Linked DNA regions of Homo sapiens: regions 2 and 3 are each linked to region 1. The links come from fine-mapping of genetic effects on gene expression. A gene starts in region 1. Each other region holds a variant in brackets. All regions are shown on one strand. Distances are from middle to middle.

Evidence for each region.
Region 2: its variant is fine-mapped to the expression of CUBN in coronary artery (GTEx, PIP above 0.99).
Region 3: its variant is fine-mapped to the expression of CUBN in blood mononuclear cells (TOPMed, PIP above 0.99).

What each region holds. Positions count from the first base shown.
Region 1 is chr10:17,125,822-17,134,457 of GRCh38, forward strand. It overlaps CUBN (cubilin), which reads right to left and starts at 3,990. Exons shown (of 67, transcript NM_001081.4): 1 at 3,823-3,990; 2 at 3,300-3,429; 3 at 2,008-2,103; 4 at 940-978. The coding sequence starts at 3,944.
Region 2 is chr10:16,706,243-16,714,940 of GRCh38, forward strand. The region is part of intron 7 of RSU1 (Ras suppressor protein 1); the gene reads right to left. Among named protein-coding and RNA genes, the nearest start is that of RSU1, 110 kb to the right of the region's middle. The variant A/G (reference allele first, on the strand shown) is at 3,344.
Region 3 is chr10:17,164,091-17,172,788 of GRCh38, forward strand. It overlaps TRDMT1 (tRNA aspartic acid methyltransferase 1), which reads right to left. Exons shown (of 11, transcript NM_004412.7): 3 at 4,751-4,827. Among named protein-coding and RNA genes, the nearest start is that of TRDMT1, 33 kb to the right of the region's middle. The variant A/C (reference allele first, on the strand shown) is at 4,733.

The sequences.
Region 1 (8,636 bases):
CCACAGCACTATTCTTTACTCATTTTCTTTCGCTTAACTACTCTCTTAAAAATGACAGCTGAGGGGTCAATGTATTATCTAAGTGGAGAAAAGGAATACACGAACTTGATCATCAAATGACAAAAAGGTTTGCAGCAGCAATCCTTGCCAGAATGGTGGGACCTGCCTCAATCTGCATGAGTCCTTTTTTTTGTATCTGTCCTTCACAGTGGGACAGATCAAACTTAAAAGTAGAGGAAAATGCTTGAAGCATGAGCAAAACAGATGAAGAATATTTTTGCAGAAATTCTTACACTGGAATCCCCAGATTTTTATGCAAAATTTTAAACATGAAGAGATTCTGTACATTTCTCTGCATAGAAGGTTACAGCTTCCATGAAAGTCTTTAAAAGGTCAGCTTCCTACAAAAGGGGTAAGAAGCCTAAGTTTACATAGATCAGTCTACAAGCATGTAGTACAGTTATACAATGTTTTCTGTAAGAAACTGTTCAAGTTTAATTACCAGCAAATGTCATTTTAAGAAAATTCGGACTATTTTGTGATACACCTAGACTTCCGAGCTTAGCGTCAGAGAGGATGCTTGCTTTCCGAGCCCCAGTCCCTGATGGGAGAATCAGCAAGTTGGGAGATCACTAGCTGACCAAGCACAGCACACACAGCTAAAGGGTGATGGTAAAGGATGTGGGCTGTGGGCTGCAAACTCAGGGTCAGAAGCCCTAACAGGCTCGGAGACCTCAGCCTTGTCATTTCATCTGTCTTAGACTCAGCTCTGCATCTGCATCCTGGGAAGCACATGCTGGGATGAGAATTAAATTATGGGAAAAAGCAAGTTTTTAATATTAATCATCCATTCACCTTCAAAATAAGAATAGCAGCTCTATTAATGATTCTAGTATGTTTTCTGTGAAAGATTTGGGTATGTAGTAGCATGAGACCTACCTGCTGCAAGCCTTGGAATTTTCTCTCAAGATCCACCAGCTGGCAATAGGGAAGAAAAAGCTTCAGTTAGCTGGTTCAAAGGCATTGCACATGTGATGTTATATCCTTGACATATTGTCCTAATGCCCTCTGCTAGGGACACACTTTGTTCATTCCTCCTTTTATTCCCTTTTTCCTCTTCATTCCTCTCCCCTCAGGATTTTCTTCCTTCCTATTCCCTCCTATCACATAGATTTCTGGGGTTTTTTTAAGTTTTTTTTTAAAGTACAACCCACTGATAAGTTGACCGATTGCTTCTCTGTAGGCAGTGACTATGGAAATGTTCATAAATGTCAGTGATGCATCCACTTCCCCAATAAGAAGATTGCTCTCAGAACTTCAGCAAGGCTTCTTTTCTTTCTTTCTTCCTTTCTTTCTTTCTCTCTCTCTCTTTCTTTCACTCTGTCTTTCTTTCTCTCTCTCTCTCTGTCTCTCTCTCTCTTTCTGTCTCTCTCTCTCTCTTTCTTTTTTTTTTTTTTTTTTTCTGGCAAGGTCCCACTCTGTTGCCTGGGCTGGAGCACAGTGGCATGATCATAGCTCACTGCAGTCTCAACCTCCCTGGCTCAAGCCATCCTCCCACTTCAGCCTCCCAAGTAGCTGTGAGTACAGGCTCATGCCACCATGCCCAGCTATTTTTTTTTTTTTTTTTTTTTTTGGTAGAGACGGAGTCTCACTATGTGGCCCAGGCTGGTCTCAAACTCCTAGGCTCAAGCGACCCTCCCTCTGTGGCCTCCCAAACTGCTGGGATTACAGGCAGTTTTTTATATTAATCATCCATTCACTTGCAGTGAGCCACTGCTCCCAGCCCAAGGCCTACTTCTGCAACAAGTGCTTGCACAGCATTTCCTGCCTTCTGTCCATCACTTCTACAGCCTCCATTACAGCTGTGTCATTTAACCAAACAGTGAGTAGTTACATGCTAAATCTCTAAAGAGCACACAAAGTTGGTATATCCCCTACAAAACGGTTACTTATACAATAGAACTAGGGAGAACTCATCGGTTCTTATGACGTAGATGTCAGACTTACCTTGGAATTAAGCTGATAGATTTGACTAGATATATTTTGAGGCAGACCAATTGCACTCCCTTTTAACTCTATAATATCTTCTTTGTTTTTCTGGATCTAATTTTAGAAAAAGAAGAAGAAATGAAGAGCACTAGTGAAAATATCATATTTATCTTTACAGTAACATAATTAAAAACTTGAGTAGTATTCTACTTTAAGCACTAAGATCTTGCCTATTATTATAAAAACCAAAACAACACCATGCGTAATAAACACTGGGCTAAAATAGCCACAGCATAATTCCACTTATCCTTTTCAGTAACAATAGATCAAGGTATTTTCCATTTGTATGTTTTCCTATAATACCAGTTTAGGGTGCTTATTAAGAAACCTGGCTTGGAAGCAGACTGTTTAGGTTTTAAGTCCTGGCTCAGCTATTTATTGCTGTCCTGGGCAAGTTACCTAACTGCTTCAGGGTTTCTTTACCTCTTGTAAAACTAGGGTGACAATAAAGGCCACCTCATAGGACAGCTGTGAAGGTCAAATGAGATAACATCCATACGGTGCTAAGCACAGTGGATGGCCCACAGTAAGCTCTGAATAATGCTGACTTCTAACATTATGACTGAAATATGCAGTGATTATTGGGAAATGAAAACACCCAGTAAGGCAGGAGAATAACTGGCCAATTCTGTTCTGTGGCAAAAGCAAACTGGTCACATGTCCACATATCCTTGGTCCCCTACTTCCTCGCATCCCCTGTGGAGGAGTTTCAGTTCCACCCTCCGTGCCTTCTCTGGACTAGGGTGCATTGTCTGGCACAATGAGCTTCTATCTTTTAGCATACTCCCTCTACCCACTATTAACCCCAGGCCATCGTCCTTTACAAGAACATGTCTGATGCCCAATTATGTTCTCTATGCTAAAGATTCAAGGTACACTAGGAAGGGGGAGGGAGGCTGAAGACAGGTTGATTAATGAATACAATATATAGTTAGATAGAAGAAATAAGACCTAGTGTTTGATAGACCAGTAGGGTGACTATAGTTAACATTAATCTATTGTACATTTCAAAATAACTAGAAGAGAACAATTCATATGTTCTTAGCATGAAGAAAAGGTAAATATTTAAGGTGATGGATATCCCAATTACCCTGATTTGAACTTTACACATTATAGGAATGTATCAAATTATGTATTAATAAAAAATAATAATTAAAAAAGATTCAAGGTACAGATTAATCTAGACTTGTTCAATTAAGTCACCGTATATGGATATACAAAATGACTTCAATATATTTCCAGTGTATTACCTGATGTAAACACTCACTGAGATCTTCATCATTTAATTTAATTTTTCCCAGGGATCCGGTTCTAAACTCAATGTTTTGAGCAGACCCCGTAAGAAACACCAAATTTCCTCTCTCTGTAGCCATTCGAGGCCTATATAATTCAAACGAGAGAATGCATCAGTAATTAGCAAGTACAATTTTTAAACCAAAATAACAAAGTTTCTTACTGAATAACTACAGGCCAAATACATCTTCACTTTTTGATCATCTCAACCCAACTGCCCCTGCTCATCTGCCACTTTTTTCTCTGCACATTTCTCAGAGATACCTCCTGGCAATTGCAAACAGATTATTTGCAAAATGACAGATAATAATTTGTGCATAGGAAAGTAATTTCATACCTCAGTCTAAATGTTTTTCCCTGTTTGCTTCTCAACATAATTTTCCTCAAGAAAAATTGCACCTTTGTTTATCTGGCTATTTGGGAAAACTGGTGAGGAATTAGCCTAGTCCCTGAGCAGGAATGACCCATGTGTTTACTTACTGTTGGAGATTGATGCTTCTTTTTTGTCTCTGCAGCTCAAGTTCTCCAGCTTCGCCATTTACTTCAGCAAATATTAATAAGGTAAGCAAACTCCAAAGAAAAGGTAAAGACATGTTCATCATCAACCTCCCAGGTTGGCAGGTAAGAGTGAGGCCACTCCAACCAACTGAGCATGGGATTTTGGAGAACAGCAAACCAGGCAGGTGTACTTTGAACCATGGAATATCCTGTAACTGTTGAGTTTTTTCTTCTTTGCCCTAGAAGGCTATGTTATTTTTTCTTCCAGAGGGATGTAAATGATCTTAGATCTTCAGTACTCTTCAACTTGTGAGAGGTCAAAATCTACCTTAAGTGATGCGCAACTTAATCATTATCTATTTGACCTTTGAAACAGTAACAAGCAGCTTTGAAAACATCCACTTAAACAATCTTTGCTTAAGAAGTAACTAGGTTTCAACAAAAGTAAACTGGTCATTATCTACACCTTTCTCTGTTCCCCTCCTTCCTCACCTCCCTTGCAGAGGAGTTCCACCTTTACCCAGCGCTAGGAAAACTAGATATCCACATGCAAAAGAAGTTGGAGGCTTACCTCATACCATATGCAAAAATTAACTCAAAAAAGTTCAAAGATCTAAATCTAAGAGCTAAAACTATAAAATTAACTCACAATGGTTCAAAAAATCTGAAACTATAACATAAAACTCAGAAGAATAGGACAAAAATTCATGACCTTGGATTTTGGATTTGGCAATGATTTCTTGAGTATGATACCAAAAGCATGGGCAAAAAAAGAAAAACACACAGACAACCAAAAGATATAAATTGGAATACATCAAAATTAAAAACGTTTGTGCATCAAAAAATACATCAACAGAGTGAAAAAGCAACTCCCAGAATGGAAGAAAATATTTGCAAATCATATATATATGAAAATGGGTTAATATCCAGAATGTACAAAGAATTTGTACTTTTTACTTTTTATCATCCCTGTGGGACCTATGGACGGCTGTGGAATCCATTCCCACTTTCCACACTGCGCTATACACCCTTCCAGCTGGATATATGGTTTGAGGACATGGAGCACTGATGTCCCCACTCACTCTGTGCTGGGACTACAGAAACCACTGAGAGTGATGAAAATATTCTACATTTCGATTGTAAAATCAACTATTGATGCACTCAGACTTTCCATGAGCACACAGACAAAACTGAATTTGAGGGAGAGCTGTAAAAATTTCACTTCTAAGAAAAATCTCTAGGTAATTACCATTGCATTGGTTAATACCCATGCAGGCTCTTTCAGGACAAGCCTGTTTGTGTTTTACTTATTTTGTGTCTTACTTATGTAGGCTCTTTGAGGAGAGGATCATTATGTACCATAGCTTATAATTCTTTACTTATGCCGGGCGCGGTGGCTCACGCCTGTAATCCCAGCACTTTGGGAGGCCGAGGCGGGCGGATCACGAGGTCAGGAGATCGAGAACATCCTGGCTAACGTGGTGAAACCCCGTCTCTACTACAAATACAAAAAATTAGCCGGGCTTAGTGGCGGGCGCCTGTAGTCCCAGCTACTCGGGAGGCTGAGGCAGGAGAATGGCGTGAACCCGGGAGGCGGAGCTTGCAGTGAGCTGAGATCATGCCACTGCACTCCAGCCTGGGGGACAGAGCGAGATGCCGTCTCAAAAACAAAACAAAACAAAAAAAAACTTTACTTGTGATACTCAAATAGTCACTGCTTTTAAAAATTTTTTTTAAACCTTCCCAATTTCTTCTATATGTCTCTTGTATCTGCTTCTTTCACTCAACATAATGCTTTTGTAATTCATCTGTGCTGTAGTGTATATCATTAATTGGTTCCCTTTTATTATTGAGTAGTATTTCATCATATGGCTATCCCACAGTTTGCTTCTCTACTCATCAGTTGATAAACACTTGAGTTATTTCCAGTTTGGGACTATTATAAATAAAGCTGTTATGAACATTTGTGAACAGGTCTTTGTGTCAACATAGGTATCTCATTACAATTTTAATTTATATTTCCCTAATGACCAAAGATGTTGGGCATCTTTTTATGTATATTTGCCATTTGTTTATCTTCTTCGGTGAACTGTCTGTTTAGATATTTTGCCTATTTTTTAAAATTTTGTTGTTTGTCTTTTATTGATTGTAAGAGCTCATATATTCTAGATACAAGAATTTTCAAATACGTATTTTGCAAATATTTTTCTGCCAACCTGTGGCAAGTCATTTTGCTTGCTTAAAAATATTTTTCAAGGACAACAATAAGACACAAAAGACTACTTCCTAAGTGATTCTATATCACATGATTCCATATGAAAATCTAAAAAAGCCAAAACTACACTGATTGATAGACAACAAATCAGAGGCCAGGGGTTGGGGAGGAGATTGATCGCAAGGAGGCATGAGGGAATATTTAAGGGTGATGAAAATGTTCTGTATCATGATTGTGATTGTGGTTGCATGACTGTATAAATTTGTCAAAACTCATAAAGCTGTATAGTTAAAATAGATAATCTTTGGCAGATGTAAATTACAGCACAATAAAACTGATTAAAATTATTTCTCTTCTATATTTGTAAATGTCTTCATATATCAGGATGATACAAAATATTAATTTGGTATTAAACTAAATGCTAAGAAAAGATATCCAATAGCCTTTACATCAATAGAGATGAAATTTATCATAATAAATTTGTTTATTTGAAAGCTTAACAACTTGGCATGGGGTGGAGGGAAAGTTTGACAATATGAAATTTTTGGCAAGTTTAGAATAGGATAAAATAGTCTGGGCTAGAATCTTCCAATCAAAAGGATAATTCAAACTCTCTGAGCTCTGGACGTAACTATTTTCATGATTATACTTTCTTAAAGACCACTGAACTCAGCTAATCTTTCCAGTGCAATAGAAAAGGCCTCCAGCATGATCTTAATAAGGACTTCCTCTTTGACAGGATTTTCCTGTTTTGTTAATTAATGTGTTTATTACTCAACAAAGTAAAGATAATCTCTCAGCTCCCAATCTAAGCATTCAATTGCTCATTGTCACCCATGTTAGAAAAAAAAAAGAAAGTAACCGTCGTTCAAGGTCTGACTGACTTTTAGTGATGAGTTAGGGAATTTTACATCCAGCTCATTCACTCAACTCTAGCTCAGATCAATAGGCAAGTCAGACTGTCTGCATATGTTGACTCTGTGAAAAGCAATATAAAAATCAATTGCTGTTTCCAAGGGATTGGCACTCATTCTGTTTACTTACTCTATTCAGAAATACTTCAGGAAAGATGAATTAAAGTAGTTTTAGAATCTATGACCTTCAGATCTATATGGTAGATAACCTCTCTTCTTCTCCTCTCCCAAGGTAAACATTCTATAGACCTGAAATTCTATCTTTCATTGACTAGTAAAACTCCTGTCTCTTCCCTAATCTAGAATGCATTCCCCTAATATTCTGCATGTGCCCTTTACATATTAGCCATCTATAAGATGATAGGAACACGAAATGTAGTAAATTGCAGATTCTTCCCTCTGAAGCCTCCAGTCTAGGGAAGACCACATGGTTGAAGGTTAAGAACACGGGCCTGAAGCTCATTTATGTGCGTTCAAAGTCTGACTCCATCACTTACTGACCATGGAACCTTGTTTTTTCATCAGCAGACAGATAATAACAGCACTGAAGTTATGTAAAATGTTTAGCACATTAGGTTACTGGCACAAAATAAGTGTTCATTAAATATAAGCTGTTATCAATATCATGTAAAGAAATATAATAATCCTCACCCTCCTGTATCCTCTCTTGGGTTTAGATTCCTTAAAAGAAAAAATGACAAAAAGAATTCACAGCTGTCTTTATAATCTTGGGTACAAGGAGAAGCAAGGGTGTCTGATCATTTCTCCTATAAAAGAGGATTTCAGAGCAGAGAGATGAATTGGGGACTTTGAGTGAGGAAGACGATTGCTGACCTGGAGTTAAAGGTGTGAGGCAAAGGTAACTGATGTCTAAGAACAAGGCAAGGTGACTCCAGGAAGCACAGAACAACTCCACATTGGTGGGTGGAGAGCAAGATTCCATTTAAATCCAAGAGTTTTGAAGAGCAGGCAATCCAAAAGAAACGGTATCATCCTTGAGTGGAACTGAGTAACCAGGGTGAGGAAGCTTTTATATGGGGTGCTAGCAATGGAGCCCTCGGACAGGGAGGATCTGCTCTGGGGGCTGCTCAGTGTTTGGAGGAGGGCACCTAGTTGGAGAGTTTACCTAAGGAACCCTTATGCACATTTGTACGCATTCATTAAAATAAAACCCTTAGGGCCCGGCGCGGTGGCTCAAACCTGTAATCCCAGCACTTTGGGAGGCCGAGGCGGGTGGATCACGAGGTCAGGAGATGGAGACCATCCTGGCTAACACGGTGAAACCCCGTCTGTACTAAAAATACAAAAAATCAGCTGGGCGTGGTGGTGGGCGCCTGTAGTACCAGCTACTCAGGAGGCTGAGGCAGGAGAATGGCTTGAACCCGGGAAGCGGAGCTTGCAGTGAGCTGAGATCATGCCACTGCCCTCCAGCCTGGGTGACAGAGTGAGACTCTGTCTCAAAAAATAAAAATAAAATAAAATAATAAAAAATAAATAAAACCCTTAGGTCAGAACACTGATAACATTAATGGCATGTTGTAGACTTTAAGTTTATAATGGTGTCTGCTGTACTGTTGATTTCCACTCATCAGCCTTTACTCTCTTTGACTTCTTCAGCAAGACACATGCAAATGTATTTTGCATTGTTGCTGATACCATACATGGTA
Region 2 (8,698 bases), 420 kb before region 1:
GTTCCCAACCTCATCTTTTTAATACTTGTAAATTTTTTATAGTAACCACCCTAATGGATATGAAATTATATAGCATTGTAGTTTTCACTTGCACTTCCGTAATGACTAGAGATGTTGAACATTTTTTCATGTGCTTATTGGCCATTTATGTACCTTCCTTGGGAAAAAGTTATTCAAGTCCCTTGCCATTTTTCAACTGGGTTGTGTTTTTTATTGTTGCTGCTGTTGAGTTTTAGTTCTCTATATACTCTAAATTTTAATCCTTTATCAGATATACAATTTACAAATATTTTCTCTCATTCCGTGGGTGGTCTTTTTAGAAAAAATAATTTTAGAAAATTTTAGAAAAAATTTTAATTGACACAGTGGAATTATACATACTTATGGGGGTACAATTTGATGTTTTGATACCTATCTATGCTATATAATTATCCAATCTGGGTGGCTAGTATTCATCACCTCATGCACGTATTTCTTTGTGGTGGGAACATTTGAAAGCCTCTCTTCTAGCTGTTTCCTAATATACAATATTTCACTGTTAATTACAGTCAGTCTACTGTGTAACAGAACATCAAAATTTATTCCTACTGTCTAAATGTAACTATGTACCCACTGGCCAACATCTCTGCACCCTTCCATCTCTTCCCGCCCCTCCCAGTCTCTGGTAACCACTATTCTACTTCCTGTTTCAAGGATACCAACTCTGTTTTTGTTGTTGTTAAGAAAAAAAGATCTCATATGAGTGGGATCATGTGTTATGTGTCTTTCTGTGTCTGGATTATTTCACAAAACATGACTTCTTTCAGGTTCATCCAATTGTGGCAAATGAGAAGATTTCATACTTTCATGGCTGAATAATATTCCATTATGTATATATACATTTTCTGTATTCATTCTTGCATTAATGGGCACTTAGGTTGATTACGTATCTTAGTTATTGTAAACAGTGCTGCAATAAACATGGGAGTTGAAGTTTTCTCTTCAACATAGTAATTTCTTTTGGATATATACCTAGTAATGGAATGGCTGGATTGTATGGTAGTCCTATTTTTAATTTTTTGAAGGATCTCCATACTCTTTTCCATAATGGTTAATTTACAATCCCACCAACAATGTGTTTCCCTTTCTCCACATCCTTGCCAACCCTTATTTTCTCTTTTTAACAATAGCCATGCTAACTGGAGTGAGGTGGTATTTTATCGTGGTTCTGATTTGCACTTTCTTGATGATTACTGATGTTGAGCATTTTTTCATATACATGTTGGCCATCTGTATGTCTGCTTTGGACACATGTCTATTAAGGTAGTTTGCCCATTTTCTTAATCAGGTTTTTTTTTTTTTTGCTGTTATGATCCTTTTATGTTCTGAATATTAACCTCTTGCCAGATACATACTTTGTAAATATTTACTCTCATTCTTTAGGTGCCTCTTCACTCCGTCAATAGCTTCCTTTGCTGTGCAAAAGCTTTATAATTTGATGTAATCTTGTTTGTCTAGTTTTGCTTTTGTTGCCTGCTGCTTTTGAAGTCTTGTTTAAAAAACCCTTCTCCAGGTCAATGCTGTGAAAAGTTTCCTCTCTGTTTTCTTCCAGTAGTTGCATAGTTTTGGGTTTTACATTTACATTTTAATCTGTTTTGATTTTTCTTTTTTTTGGTAAGAGGTAGAGGTCTAGACTCATTCTTTTGCATGTTGATATCCAATTTTCCCAGCACCATTTACTAAAGAGATTTGTCTTTTCCTTAATGTGTGTTCTTGCCACCATTATGAAAAATTAGTTGGCTATAGGTATGTAAATTTATTTGTCGGCTCTCTATTCTGTTCCACTGGTTTATGCGTCTGTTTTTAAAGCCAGTAACATGTTTAGGTTCCCATAACTTTGTAGTAGCAGTGACCCTTGAACAACTTTTGACTTCCCCCAAAAAACTATTAATAGCCTACTATTGATCAGAAACCTTACGGATAACATAGTCAATTAACATATTTTGTCTGTTACATACATTATATACTATATTCTTACAATAAAGCTAGAGAAAATGTCATTAAGAAAAACATAAGGAAGAGTAAATATATTTATTATTTATTAAGTGGATGTGGAGTATTATAAAGGTCTTCATCCTCATTGTCTTCCTGGTGAGTAGGCTTCCTGTTGAGGGATTTGTCTTGCTGTTTCAGGGGTGGCAGAAGCAGAAGAAAATCTACATAAAAGTGAGCCTGCACAGTTTAAATCTAAGTTCTTTAGGAGTCAACTGTACATTTTGAACTTGGTTGGTGTGATACCTGCAGGTTTTTCTTTTTGCTCAGGGTTGCTTTGGCTATTTGGGTCCTTTTGTGGTTCCATATGAATTTTAGGATTTTTTTTTCTATCTGTGTAAAGAATGTCATTAGTATTTTGATAGGAATTGCATCAAATCTGTAGATTATTTTAGGTAATATGGCCATCTTAACTATATTAATTCTTCCAAACCATGAAGACAAAGTAGCTTGCCATTTATTTGTGTCCTCTTCAATTTCTTTTGTTAAAGTTTTAGAGTTTCAATATAGAGAGCTTTCAATTTGGTTTTGTTTCTATTATCTTTTTTTTTTTAAGCTATCGTAAATGGAGCTGTTTTCTTGATTTCTTTTTCAGATAGTTAATGAACCAATATTAATAATGGTTAATATATAGAAAGACTACTGATTCTTGTATGCTGATTTTGTATCCCATAACTACTGAATTCATTTATTAGTTCTACCAGTTCTTTAGTAGAGTCCTTTGGTTTTTTTTTTTTAATTATACTTTAAGTTTTAGGGTACATGTGCACAATGTGCAGGTTACATATGTATACATGTGCCATGCTGGTGTGTTACACCCATTAACTCGTCATTTAGCATTAGATGTATCTCCTAATGCTATCCCTCCCCCCTTCCCCCACCCCACAACAGGCCCCAGAGTGTGATGTTCCCCTTCCCGTGTCCATGTGTTCTCATTGTTCAATTCCCATCTATGAGTGAGAACATGAGGTGTTTGGTTTTTTGTCCTTGCGATAGTTTACTGAGAATGATGATTTCCAATTTCATCCATGTACCTACAAAGGACATGAACTCATCATTTTTTATGGCTGCATACTATTCCATGGTGTATATGTGCCACATTTTCTTAATCCAGTCTATCATTGTTGGACATTTCGGTTGGTTCCAAGTCTTTGCTATTGTGAATAGTGCCGCAATAAACATACGTGTGCATGTGTCTTTATAGCAGCATGATTTATAGTCCTTTGGGTATATACCCAGCAATGGGATGGCTGGGTCAAATGGTATTTCTAGTTCTAGATCCCTGAGGAATCCCCACACTGACTTCCACAAT[A/G]GTTGAACTAGTTTACAGTCCCACCAACAGTATAAAAGTGTTCCTATTTTTCCACATCCTCTCCAGCACCTGTTGTTTCCTGACTTTTTAACGATTGCCATTCTAACTGGTGTGAGATGGTATCTCATTGTGGTTTTGATTTGCATTTCTCTGATGGCCAGTGATGATGAGCATTTTTTCATGTGTCTTTTGGCTGCATAAATGTCTTCTTTTGAGAAGTGTCTGTTCATATCCTTTGCCCACTTTTTGATGGGGTTGTTTTTTTCTTGTAAATTTGTTTGAGTTCATTGTAGATTCTGGATATTAGCCCTTTGTCAGATGAGAAGGTTGCCAAAATTTTCTCCCATTCGGTTTTCTATATGTAAGATCATGTCTGCAAACAGGACAATCTGACTTCCTCTTTTCCAATTTGGATGCCTTTTATATCTTTCTCTTCCCTAATGGCTTAGGCTAGGACTTCCAGTACTATGTTGAACAGAAGTAGCAGAAGTTGGCATCCTTGTCTTGTTCCATATATTAAAAGAAAGCTTTTCCTCATTCAGTATGATGTCAGCTGTGGGTTTTTCATACATGACATTTACTGTGTTAAGGTACATACCTTCCATAACTAATTTGTTGAGTTTTTATGAAAGAATGTTGAAGGATGTCAAATGCTTTTTCTGCATCTACTGAAATGATCATATTGTTTTTGTCTCTTTTTGTTAATGTGATGTATTACACTTATTGACTTGCATACGTTAAACTACCCTTGCAACACTGGTATGAGTAATACTTGATCACAGTGAATGATCTTTTTAATGTGCTGCTGGATTCAGTTTGTTAATATCTTATTAAGAATTTCTGCATCTATGTTCACATTACAGATACTTACCTGTAGTTTTGCTGTTGTTGTTGTATCGTTGTCTGGTTTCAGGATCAGGGTAATGCTGGCCTCATAAAATTTTACAAATACTCCCCACTTATCAATTTTCTGGAATAGTTTGAGGAGAACTGTTATTAGTTCTTCTTCAAATGTTTTGTAGAATTCAGTAGTGAAGCCATCAGGTCCTAAGCTTTTCTTTGATGAAACATTTTTTTTAAATTTTTTTATTTTTTATTATACTTTAAGTTCTGGGATATATGTGCAGAAAGTGCAGGTTTGTTACATAGGTATACATGTGTCATGGTGGTTTGCTGAACCCATCAACCCATCATCTACATTAGGAATTTCTCCAATGCTATCCCTCCTCTTACCCCCTACCCGCCGACAGGTCCCAGTGTGTAATGCTCCCCTCCGTGTGTCCATGTGTTCTCATTGTTCAACTCCCACTTATCAGTGAGAACATGCAATGTTTGATTTTCTGTTCCTGTGTTAGTTTGCTGAAAATGATGGTTTCCAGCTTCATCCATGTTCCTGCAAAGGACATAAAGTCTTTCTTTTTTATGGCTGCACAGTATTCCACATGGTGTATATGTGCCACATTTTCTCTATCCAGGAAAGACTTTTTATAACTAATTGTCTCACTAGTTATTAGTCTGTTCAGATCTTTAATTTCTTTATAATTGAATCTCAGTAGTTTGTATATGTCCAAGAACTTATCTATTTCTTCCATATTATCAAATTTGTTGGCATATAGCAGCTCATAATATTCTCTATAATTTTCTGTATTTCTGTAGTATCAGTTGTAACATCTCCTTTTCCATCTCTGATTTTACTTGAGTCTTGTTTTTTTTAGTCTAGCTTAAAGTTTGTTGATTTTGCTTATCTTTTCAAAAAAACCAACTCTTCGTTTTCTTGATCTTTTGAATGTTAATTTGTCTTTATTTCTTCTCTGAGCCTTATTCTACCTTTCCTTCTATCAATTTTGGGTTCAGTTTGTTCTTGTTTTTCTAGTTCCTTGTGGTACGTCATTAGGTTGTTCATTAAAAATCTCTCTTCTTTTCTAATGTAGCTGTGTATTGCTATAAAATTCCCTGTTAGAACTGCTCTCTCGCTGTGTCTCACAGGTTTTGGTAAGATGTGTTTGCATTCTTGTTTGTCTCAAAGCAATTTTTCATTTCTCTGTTAATTTAATTGACCCACTGGTTGTTGAGGGCCATGTTGTTTAATTTCCACGTATTTCAAAGTATCCAAAGTTGCTCATGTTGTTGTTTTCTAGTTTCATACCACTGTGGTTAGAAAAGATACTTGATAGGATCTCTATCTCAAATCTGTTAAGATTTGTTTTGTGGCCTAGCATGTGCTCTATCCTGGAGAATGTTTCATGTGTAATTGAGAAGAATTTGTATTCTGCAGCTGTTAAAATGTTCTGTAAATATCTGCTAGGTGCATTAGGTCTTTGATGTAGTTTTAGTCTGATATTTCTTTGCCAAACTTCCCTTTTATAATTGTATTGCAGTTGATCTGTACCTTTATGTGCAATCATGTTTGTTTTGTACATCTGTATGTTTCAGGGTTGAGTGCATATGTATTTGTTACAATATTCTCTTATTGAATTTATCCTTTAATCATGACATAATGACCTTTTTTCTTTTTCCAGTTTTTGACTTAAAATCTGTCTTATCTGATACAATTATAGCTACTCCTGCTCACTTTTGGTTTCTGTTTGTATGGAATATGTTTTTCCATTCCTTCACTTTCAGTTTATGTTTGTCTTTAATGATGATGTGAGCCTCTTGTAGCCAGCAGATAGTTGGGTCTTATTTTTAAAACCTGTTCGACCACTCTGTGTTTTTAAATTTGAGACTTTAATCCATTTATATTCAAGGTCATATCAATAAAAATTTATTCCTGCCATATTGTTGTTTTCTGCTTGTTTTGTAGATCCTTTTCCCCTTTCTTTTACTCATGTTATTTTCCTTCGCGGTTTGGTGGTTTTCTGTGCTGCGAAGTTTTGTTTTCTTTCTCTTTACTGTTTATTATTCTGTCGTAATTTCTTTCTTTGTGGTTACCATGGGGCTAACATAAGAGTCTTGTAGTTACAATAGACTACATCAACCTGATAGCAATTTAAATCTGGTTGCATGAAAATATTCTAGACTTAACCCCATACACAATTAATATTTTTGTTGCCTTAATCTACTTATTTATTATATATTTGTAGCCACTAAGTGTGGTTGTTGTTGTTTTTGACCTTTTTGACTTCTAAGTCTTCATACTAGAGGATTGAGAGATTTACATAGGACCATTAAATCACTAGAGTATTTTATGAATTTACCTCTACTAGTGAGTTTTACACCTTCACATGTTTTCATGATAATTATTGTCCTTTCTTTTCCAGTGGTAGCACTCCCTTAAGCATTCCTTATAAGGCCAACCTACTGGTCACAAATTCTCTCAGCCTTTGCTTGTCTGAAAAGGTCTTATTTCTCCTTCATTTCTGAAGGATAACTTTGTTGGATATAATATTCTTGGCTGACAGTTCCTCCTCCCCACAAGCCCCCCTTCTTTCAGCACTTTGAATATATCATCCCATTCTCTTCTAACCTGCAAGGTTTCTGCTGAGAAATCTACTAGTAGTCTAATGGACATTCCCTTGTGTGTGATGTGACACTGTTTTCTTGTGGCTTTTAAAATTCTGTCTTTAACTTTTGAGAGTATGATTATAATGTGCCTCAGAGAGGACTGAATCTAACTGGGGACCTCTGAACTTGCTGAATTCCTATGTCCGTATTTCTGCCAAGACTAGGGAAGTTTTCATCTATTATTTCATTACATAGGTTTTCTGTGTCTTTCTCCAACTCTTCTCCCTACGAAGTTCCTATAATGCACACATTTGTTCATTTAATGGTATCGCATGAGTCCCACAGGCTTTCTTCAATTAAAATTCTTATTTTTTTTTCCCTCTGACTGGGATAATTCAAGAGGCCTGTCTTCAAGTTCAGAAATTACTCTGCCTGATCTAGTCTGTTGTTGAAGCTTTCACTTGCACTTTTTATTTCATTCATAATTCCTCAGCTCCAAGATTTCTGTTTGGTTCTTTATGACACTTATCTTTGTTGCATTTCTCATTCGGATGATGAATTGTTTTCCTGATCTCACTGAATTATTTGCTGTATTCTCTTGTATCTCCATGAGTTTCCTTAAGATTATCTTATTTTCAGGCATTTCATAAATGTCCTTTTCTTTGGGGTCTTTTACTAAAGACTTATTGTATTCCTTTGCAGGTATCACATTTCCTTGCTTTTTCACATTGCTTGTGTCCCTATGCTGATATCTGAACATCTAGTGGAATAGTGACCCTTTCCAGGTTTATGAAGTAACTTTCATTAGGAGATAATTCTTCCTGTAGATAGGTCCCAAGGTGTCATTTGAGTGTGGTGAGTTAGCTTTAGTTCTGGGTGGACTCAGTAGCATGGTCTACATGTAGTTTTTTCAGCTGCAATCTTCATCAGCAATGTCTGCAATTGCCTCAATGGCCTATGCTGTAGGTATTTGTGGTGGTCGTAGTGTGTGGTTTTGCTGGGAGTAGGGGTGTTGGGCTGGCTGTTGGGCTGAATATGTATGGGTGTGGAGGGCGAAAAGGCTCTCCAACAGGCTTTTCAGGGAGGTGGGGCCACCACTAGTCTGGCTGTTGGGCTGAGCTTAGGTGCATATGGGTGTGGCTAGCTGAGCAGCTACGTGGCTGTCTCTTCAAGAGGATGGATGAAGAGTCTACTGGTCTGATGCTGTGCCAGCTGCACATAGGTGCAGCTGTGTCAGGTGGCCCTGTAGGAGTCTGTCTAGAGGAGCAGGTCCACCACTGGCCCAGCTCTTGGGCTGGATGCCAGTGTGAAATGGGGTTGGGCAGCCTTGCAGTTATTTGGGAGGGAGGGCTGCTACTGGACCAGCTGTCAGGCTAGACATAGAATAGCAGCATTCAGCTGCTCTTTGGGTGTCTGTATGCGGGAACGAGGCTGCCACAGGACCAACAGTTGGACCAGCTATGGATGCACCGCGCTTGGTGGGACAGGTGGCTATGGTGCAGGTACGTGCAGGAGAGGTAATTGGCTGACTGTTCAGTGACTTCAGCACCGTACAGATCTGCCTGTTCCCTGGGGGGTGGGGGGATGTGGTGTGTCACTTGGGTTTGAACACTGGGGTCTCAGTCATTCCATGTGACCTATGCTTTGGGTAGCTATGGTCATAGTGCTGCAGGTACCTGTGTGAATGTGGTATAAGGACAGCTAGGCCTCCAGGATGAAAAGAGTCAATTGCTACTGGTGCGCAGGGCAGGATGCACTCTAGCAGTGGGAAAGGTTCAAGATGGGACAGAGTTGAAGCTGCTTAGGTTGCGGGTCCTCAATGTGGACACTGAGGCATTGCATCTGTGTGAGCTCCCGGCTACTCTCCAAACTGGATTGGGGGCCTGTGAAGTTTAGGGGACTCCTATATCA
Region 3 (8,698 bases), 38 kb after region 1:
CTGATGAACATCGATGCAAAAATCCACAATAAAATACTGGCAAACCGAATCCAGCAGCACATCAAAAAGCTTATCCACCATGATCAAGTGGGCTTCATCCCTGGGATGCAAGGCTGGTTCAACACAAGCAAATCAATAAATGTAATCCAGCATATAAACAGAACCAACGACAAAAACCACATGATTATCTCAATAAATGCAGAAAAGACCTTTGACAAAACTCAACAACCCTTCATGCTAAAAACTCTCAATAAATTAGGTATTGATGGGACATATCTCAAAATAATAAGAGCTATCTATGACAAACCCACAGCCAATATCATACCGAATGGGCAAAAACTGGAAGCATTCCCTTTGAAAACTGGCACAAGACAGGGATGCCCTCTCTCATCACTTCTATTCAACATAGTGTTGGAAGTTCTGGCCAGGGCAATCAGGCAGGAGAAAGAAATAAAGGGCATTCAGTTAGGAAAAGAGGAAGTCAAATTGTCCCTGTTTGCAGATGACATGATTGTATATCTAGAAAAACCCATCATCTCGGCCCAAAATCTCCTTAAGCTGACAAGCAACTTCAGCAAAGTCTCAGGATACAAAATCAATGTGCAAAAATCACAAGCATTCTTATACACCAATAAAAGACAAACAGAGAGCCAAATCATGAGTGAACTCCCATTCACAATTGCTTCAAAGAGAATAAAATACCTAGGAATCCAACTTACAAGGGATGTGAAGGACCTCTTCAAGAAGATCTACCAATCACTGCTCAATGACATAAAAGAGGATACAAACAAATGGAAGAACATTCCATGCTCAGGGATAGGAAGAATCAATATTGTGAAAATGGCCACATTGCCCAAGGTAATTTATAGATTCAATGCCATCCCCATCAAGCTACCAATGATTTTCTTCACAGAATTGGAAAAAACCAATTTAAAGTTCATATGGAACCAAAAAAGAGCCCACATTGCCAAGTCAATCCTAAGCCAAAAGAACGAAGCTGGAGGCATCACGCTACCTGACTTGAAACTATACTACAAGGCTACAGTAACCAAAACAGCATGGTACTGGTACCAAAACAGAGATATAGATCAATGGAACAGAACAGAGCCCTCAGAAATAATGCCACTTATCTACAACTATCTGATCTTTGACAAACCTGACAAAAACAAGAAATGGGGAAAGGATTCCCTATTTAATAAATGGTGCTGGCAAAACTGGCTAGCCATATGTAGAAAGCTGAAACTGGATCCCTTCCTTACACCTTATACTAAAATTAATTCAAGATGGATTAAAGACTTAAATGTTAGACCTAAAACCATAAAACCCTAGAAGAAAACCTAGGCAATACCATTCAGGACATAGGCATGGGCAAGGACTTTATGTCTAAAACACCAAAAGCAATGGCAACAAAAGCCAAAATTGACAAATGGGATCTAATTAAACTAAAGAGCTTCTGCACAGCAAAAGAAACTACCATCAGAATGAACAGGCAACCTACAGAATGGGAGAAAATTTTTGCAATCTACTCATCTGACAAAGGGCTAATATCCAGAATCTACAATGAACTCAAAACAAATTTACAAGAAAAAAACAAAAAACCCCATCAAAAAGTGAGCAAAGGATATGAACAGACACTTCTCAAAAGAAGACATTTATGCAGCCAAAAGACACATGAAAAAATGCTCATCATCACTGGCCATCAGAGAAATGCAAATCAAAACTACAATGAGATACCATCTCACACCAGTTAGAATGGCAATCATTAAAAACTCAGGAAACAACAGGTGCTGGAGAGGATGTGGAGAAATAGGAACACTTTTACACTGTTGGTGGGACTGTAAACTAGTTCAACCATTGTGGAAGTCAGTGTGGGGATTCCTCAGGGATCTAGAACTAGAAATACCATTTGACCCTGCCATCCCATTACTGGGTATATACCCAAAGGATTATAAATCGTGCTGCTATAAAGACACATGCACACGTATGTTTATTGTGGCACTATTCACAATAGCAAAGACTTGGAACCAACCCAAGTGTCCAACAATGATAGACTAGATTAAGAAAATGTGGCACATATACACCATGGAATACTATGCAGCCATAAAAAGGATGAGTTCATGTCCTTTGTAGGGACATGGATGAAGCTGGAAACCATCATTCTCAGCAAACTATCACAAGGACAAAAAACCAAACACCGCAAGTTCTCACTCATAGGTGGGAATTGAACAATCAGAACACATGGACACAGGACGGGGAACATCACACACCGGGGCCTGTTGTGGGGTGGGGGGAGGGAGGAGGGATAGCATTAGGAGATATACCTAATGTAAATGATGAGTTAATGGGTGCAGCACACCAACATGGCACACGTATACATATGTAACAAACATGCACGTTGTGCACATGTACCCTAAAACTTAAAGTATAATAATAAAAAAAAAGCATGCTATTTATCTTCAGAGTCTTAAATAAGTTAGCTGGCATCATTGGTCAGTTTCCTCATACCTGATGGCAGGACCAAAACCATCAGTGGATCTGAGGTTCAGCTGTGGGATTAGACTGGATGTGAACAGACTTCTCAGAAATCTTCAGTTCTTATTTGTCCTTTCCTGTCAGACTTTCACATGAGGACTACAGAATCAGTTACTCCTGCCATCAGCAGCTGGAGCTGTGCTAAGACAAGGGGGAGGTGGGAGTAGGAAAGCTACGGGGCCCTCTGCAGTATTACCTGAGGCTTCACAGAGCTGGAGCTGCATTCCGCTGTGTATATCCTGCTCACTGTACTCCACAGGCCACACTCTTGCACGTGCCTAGAGCCACCCTGAGATGGAATGGCCTCTGCCTGCTCTGATATACTCCTAATCTACCTCCAGACACAGTTCAGACATCACCTCTGAAAGAATTCCCTTCTCTTGGTATGCAGCAAGCCCTTTTCTCCTCTGTACTCCTGTGACACTTTCAGCATTCTTTTATTATATAGCTTATAAGATAATTTAAGATAACATTATAAGATAATTATTTGTCAGCCATTCCCATTAGACTATGAGCTCCCAAAGGACAGGAACTACAGCATCAAAAATAATGCCTGGCTTGTAGGTGAACCACAAATCCTTGGGAAATTCATTTCCTAGAGAATTGTTTAAATAAATCCAAATGTAGATGGAAATTTGGCATTAGAATATTCATTCACTGAATTAGACTGGTTATTACATATGATATTCTACTTAAAATCATGGAATATATAAAATGATTAACAAATCTTGGCTCTGACATTCTTTAATTGTATATCCTTGAGAAAGTTAACCTTTCTATGCCCCAGTTTCTCATCTGTAAAATCATTGTAACAGCAATGGCTACCCCATAAGCTTGTTAAATTAAATGACATCCTCTGCATAAGACACAGACACTTAGAGGATTACTACTGCTATTTTCATTTAAAATAATCCAAAATACTCTTATTAAAAATATCTAAATGAAAATCAATTAGTCAAGATTTGGTCGAAGATATAATTTCCTGAAACATATAGCCAAATATATATATACACACATATATATAATTTTTTAAATGAAGAGTTTATAACGTTGCTATGAAAAGTCAGAATTATTCAATGTACATATGAATTTTAAGAAATGTAAAGTTCACAAGTGCATGCTTAACTAGCTTTTAAATTGTACAATTAAGCAATTTAGGACTTGAATATTTATTGTGGAAATTCACTTTGCTTAATCAGTATTAGAAAGATATTCTTGAATGCTCATTAGTTTAAATGAATTAAGGTACTTTGGGCTGGAAATAAACATTGTGTCTTAGGTAAGTATAAAAGAGGTATCCTACAGTCTTGCATATCTACTTTTGACCAAATTAATTTGCTCATCTGGTAGCAACTGCTATTTCCTTTGTGATTAATGCTTAATTATAAATATGAATGGAGGCTGGGCATGGTGGCTCCGTGTATAATCCCAGCACTTTGGGAGGTCGAGGTGGGAGGATAGCTTGAGCCCAGGGCTTTTAGGCCAGCCGTGGCAACATAGTGAGACGCCATCTCTACCAAAAATTTAAAAATTAGCTGGGCATGGAAGTACATACCTTTAGTCCCAGCTACTCAGGAGGCTGAGGCAGGAGGATTGCTTGAACCTGGGAGATTGAGGCTGCAGGGAGCTGTGATCATGCCACTGCACTGCAGCCTGGGTGACAGAGCAAGACCCTGTCCCAATAATTATTATTATTTAAAAATAAATAAATACATACATAAGTAGATAGAAGGATTTATGAAAAAATTTCCGAACTATGAAATGCAGCTAATAAACTTCAGAGTGTCCATGTTTGACACTACAGTATGATCTGATTTAGTAAGTCCTTCAAAAGCACTTTCTCTACACTTGATATGGTTTGGCTGTGTCCCCATCCAAATCTCATCTTGAATTTCCACGTGTTGTGGGACGGACCCGGTGGGAGGTAACGGAATCATGGGGGCAGGTCTCTGCTGTGCTGTTCTTGTGACAGTGAATAAGTCTCATGAGATCAGATGGTTCTATAAAGGGCAGTTTCCCTGCACAACATCTCTCTCTTTACCTGCTGCCCGTGACTTGTTCCTCCTTGCCTTCCGCCATGATTGTGAGGTTTCCCTAGCCACATGGAACTGTAAGTCTAGTAAACCTCTTTCTTTTGTAAATTGCCCAGTCTCAGGTATGTCTTTATCAGCAGCATGAAAATGGACCAATACAACACTGA[A/C]ATATTTATGACACATACCTTGTGAATGGCTGGCAGGGAGGGCTCATTAAAATCATATCAAAAGATAATCTGTCAAACTCTTCGAGTGTAATGCCCTGAGGAATGAACATTTAGGGGGAAAAAAGAACATAAAAACATGGATAGAATGGGGAAGAGGGAAAATACTAACTATAATTAAATATATCAGAAACTGAAACAGTTTATAATACAATGCTTGTCAAATCAACTTTGGTTAACTAACTTCTCAAAGCAATACTGTGAAGGAAGTGGGGCAGTAAACTGAAGCTACAAGAAATTAAGTGACTTCCCCCAAGGTCCCAGCACCAGCCCAGAGCTGGAACAGTTGTTTCCTGGATCCTAAGCACATCTGGCCTGTATCACACCTCAAGTGTAACACTGCTGTTTTCTAGAGTAAAACGTGGAGAACCTTATTTTATAATTGATAACGTTCATGGAGATGGGGTCTAGGAAATTTTTAAATACCTACCTGTCAATAATGTTCTTTATTTAGCAAATGTGATATGCAGACCAGTCACCATCCCTTTCATATACATCTGTTAATATATTATCAAATGGAAAAGGGCCTCATTCTCAGATATCCACAATTATTTTGTTTTGCAGTTGTGTGCAATGAACTTCAAATGACTGTTGACAAGATGCATCAAAAGAATTCCTAATGGGCTAAGTAGCTGAAAACTGTGCTGTGTTGCTCCTTTTCTATATCTCAGAAGACAAACACAGGGAAGCACACGTCAGGGGTTTGCCAACTCACATTAAGCACTCTCAGTGCACATCTTTAGCTAGAAACTTAAAGAAATGAGCCCAGAATCAAAACCTTCCTAATTATAGCCCACTTCTAAGAAGTTCAAGCACATGAATAAAGCAGGAAAAGCTTTACTCTGAATTCTGTAAAGAGTGAGTTAACGTGGGAACATGTCAGTTGTCTCCATTGTATTAACAGTTTGAATGTGCTTGTCTATCAGTTTTTGATCATAGGATTTTAAATAATTAAAGATACATCTGTGAAAATGAAATCAAAATCAGATATTGAAAATTTCCTAAAGCACTTCTCGACTCCCCAGTGTTAAGGAAAGCAATCTGAAAATCCTACACTGAGCAGTCTGCCAGAACACACGGGGCAGGGTATTAGCACATCACATTCAAGTTCAACAGCCTGTACATACAGGGCCATTATGATAAGCAACTGGACGTGGAATGATAACAGCTAAATTCCTACAACTAAAGTAAAAAACAACAATCTCTCATAGCAATTATTCCAGGGGCATCCTATGTCTAGAATCGAAAGGAAGTAAACAGAGTCAATGTCTCTAATACAGCTAGCCACTAAAAAAATTACAGCTTTAACAGATTCTTGAAAATAGTGATTTTTTTAATAGTGTAGGCCAACTGATAAGGCAGTTAGGCAAAAATTCATCACTAAATTGAACCCTTCACAACTTATTTAACCTGGTATTCTAGGTCAATGAAAGTGTATTTGGATTAAATAAAGTAGTCATGGAAATACACAGGTTATTTTTAATGACTAAATATTTTAAAGCCAAAGGAAATTGATTTTTTACCTTATATGACTATACAAGTTAAGGAAAATACTTTTGCTTTCAGATAATATTAGATCAAGTCAGTGGGCTAACACTGTTCATCCTGTATTGACTGGCAGGTGTATTTGTCCCTCTGCCTGCCTTATTGCCTATTTTCTCAGAAAGTTTTCTGGCTATTCTTAAACTGAATTTTCATTTGAACTTTAGGAAGAACTTGGTAGATTAGAAAACAACAACTTTTGACTATTTTATTGAAGTTATAGTGAAACAGAGCCAATATTTTTACAATATTCAGCCATCCTATCCAAGACCACAGTACGCTTTCATCATTTTTCAAATCTCTTTAACTCCCATGTGAGTTATATAGATTTCTTGTTATACAGATTCTTGTGTTGTTACTAAAAATAGGAACTTTCTCCTATTATGTCTTCTAGTAGACATATTGTATATTGTATGCTGTAGGTTATCATATTTTTGTAGCCAGCGTCCTTATTAAAGCACTAATTGTTCCTCATATATTATTTTTGCTTAACTTGTTGGTATTTTCCGGCATACTCAATCACATTTTTAAATATTTCTATTTATATGATATTTCTCTGTGTAAGTACATTAGCTAACAGATCCACAACTATATCAAGTCATAGTGCTAATGGTGGACATCCTTGTCTTTTTATTATTTTAATGAGAATACTTTTAAAGTTTCACCATTTGGTATGTTACTGGATTTAGATGTGTGTGTGTGTGTGTGTGTGTGTGTGTGTAGTCAAGATCTCAGGCAACCAGGCCAGCAGTCAGGCTCTTGGAACATTTGCATTCTTAGTCCCAGAGCCTTCATTCCGAGGTGTCCTTATCTGAGGCCTTGAGCAGAACTTCTCTGCCAAGGCCTCCTTGTGTGGGGAGGTGTGGGAAACCCTGAAGACACTGATGACACCTGAAGAGTGTGCCATTCTGACTCAGTCCCCAGCACTTTTCCACTGCTAGCCCTCCCTGCTTTCCCTTCCCTTAAGGCCAAGGATTCCCTCAACAGTGAGAGGGCCCTCACGTATACACTGATCCATGGGTAAATGGAACCGAGAGAGTGGCATTGTCTCTGCTTTTAGATTCTTGCCAGTAACACCACTGTAAGTGAGTGAAGGCTTAACTCTTTTGTTTTTGGCTTGTGGCCTTAATCAGCTACTTTAACGCTCTTGACAGCTGAGCTTTCTCTTTCCCAGCTCTGCTGAGACCCTGACAACAACACTGAATAATGTCCTAAAAAATTGATAGTTTCATTTATCTGCAAAGACATATTTTTTGTGTCTCACTGCCTCTTCCCACTCCGATTACATTATTATTTCTACACTGCAAAGCTTTACAACATTTTCAGCTATTTTCTAACCATAGTTTTCCTCCTAACACGGCAGCTTCATTCCTGGGTTTTCTACTTTGATTCATCTCTTGCTCAGCTAGATTAAGTGATGCAGTCATCTGTTCCAGAAGGGCTCATGGATGTTATATTGTAAATTTCATTCTAGAAAAATTTTTATCTATTTTTATTAAGAGTTTTTGTTCCACTGGAGTCATTCTCCTCTTCAGAGGCATTAATGATATTTATCACGGATCACTCTGTCTTCGGTAGCTATCATTTACTCTACAGTATGTAACTGGAGAAAGTGAAGAAAGAGAACAGAGATTATTTTTGAAGCAATAATGGTCAAACCCCCCAAATTTGATGAAAATTATAAATAAGAAAAGCACCACAAGGTCCAAGCACTACAAATAAAGAAAAACATACAGAGCACATCAAAATAAAACTTTTCAAAACACGTGATAAAGATAAAATCTTAAATGTAGACAAAGAAAGACACAATATATTAAGAGGAATGAAAGCAGAAATTATTACAGACCTTAAGTCAGAAATTAAGAAACCCAGATAACACTGGAAAGTATTAAAAGAAAACAAACAGATTTTTACAAAAATATCTTTCAAAATGAATGCAATCAAAGATTCAGTGGGCCAGGCACAGTGGCTCATGCCTGTAATCCCAGCACTTTGAGAGGCTGATATGGGAGGACCAGTTGAGCCCAAGAGTTTGAGACCAGCCTGGGCAACATAGTGAGACCCTGCCTCTCCAAAAAAGAAAAAAAAATGAGTAAAAATTATATTTCACAGTGAAGACAAAATAAAACACTTTTTTACTCAAAAGCACCAAGGTAATTTGTCCCTTTCCACATATAACCAACAAGAGACACTAAAGAAGGTTTTTCAGGAAGAAGAAAAATTATATCACATGCAAACTTTGATCTAAAACACAAGGATAAAAAGTGCTGAAAATTGTAGGTATATAGATAAATATAAAAGACTTTGTGCTTTTTAAAAGTTCTTTAATAGATATTTGACTATTTAATCCAAAAAACAGTAACAATG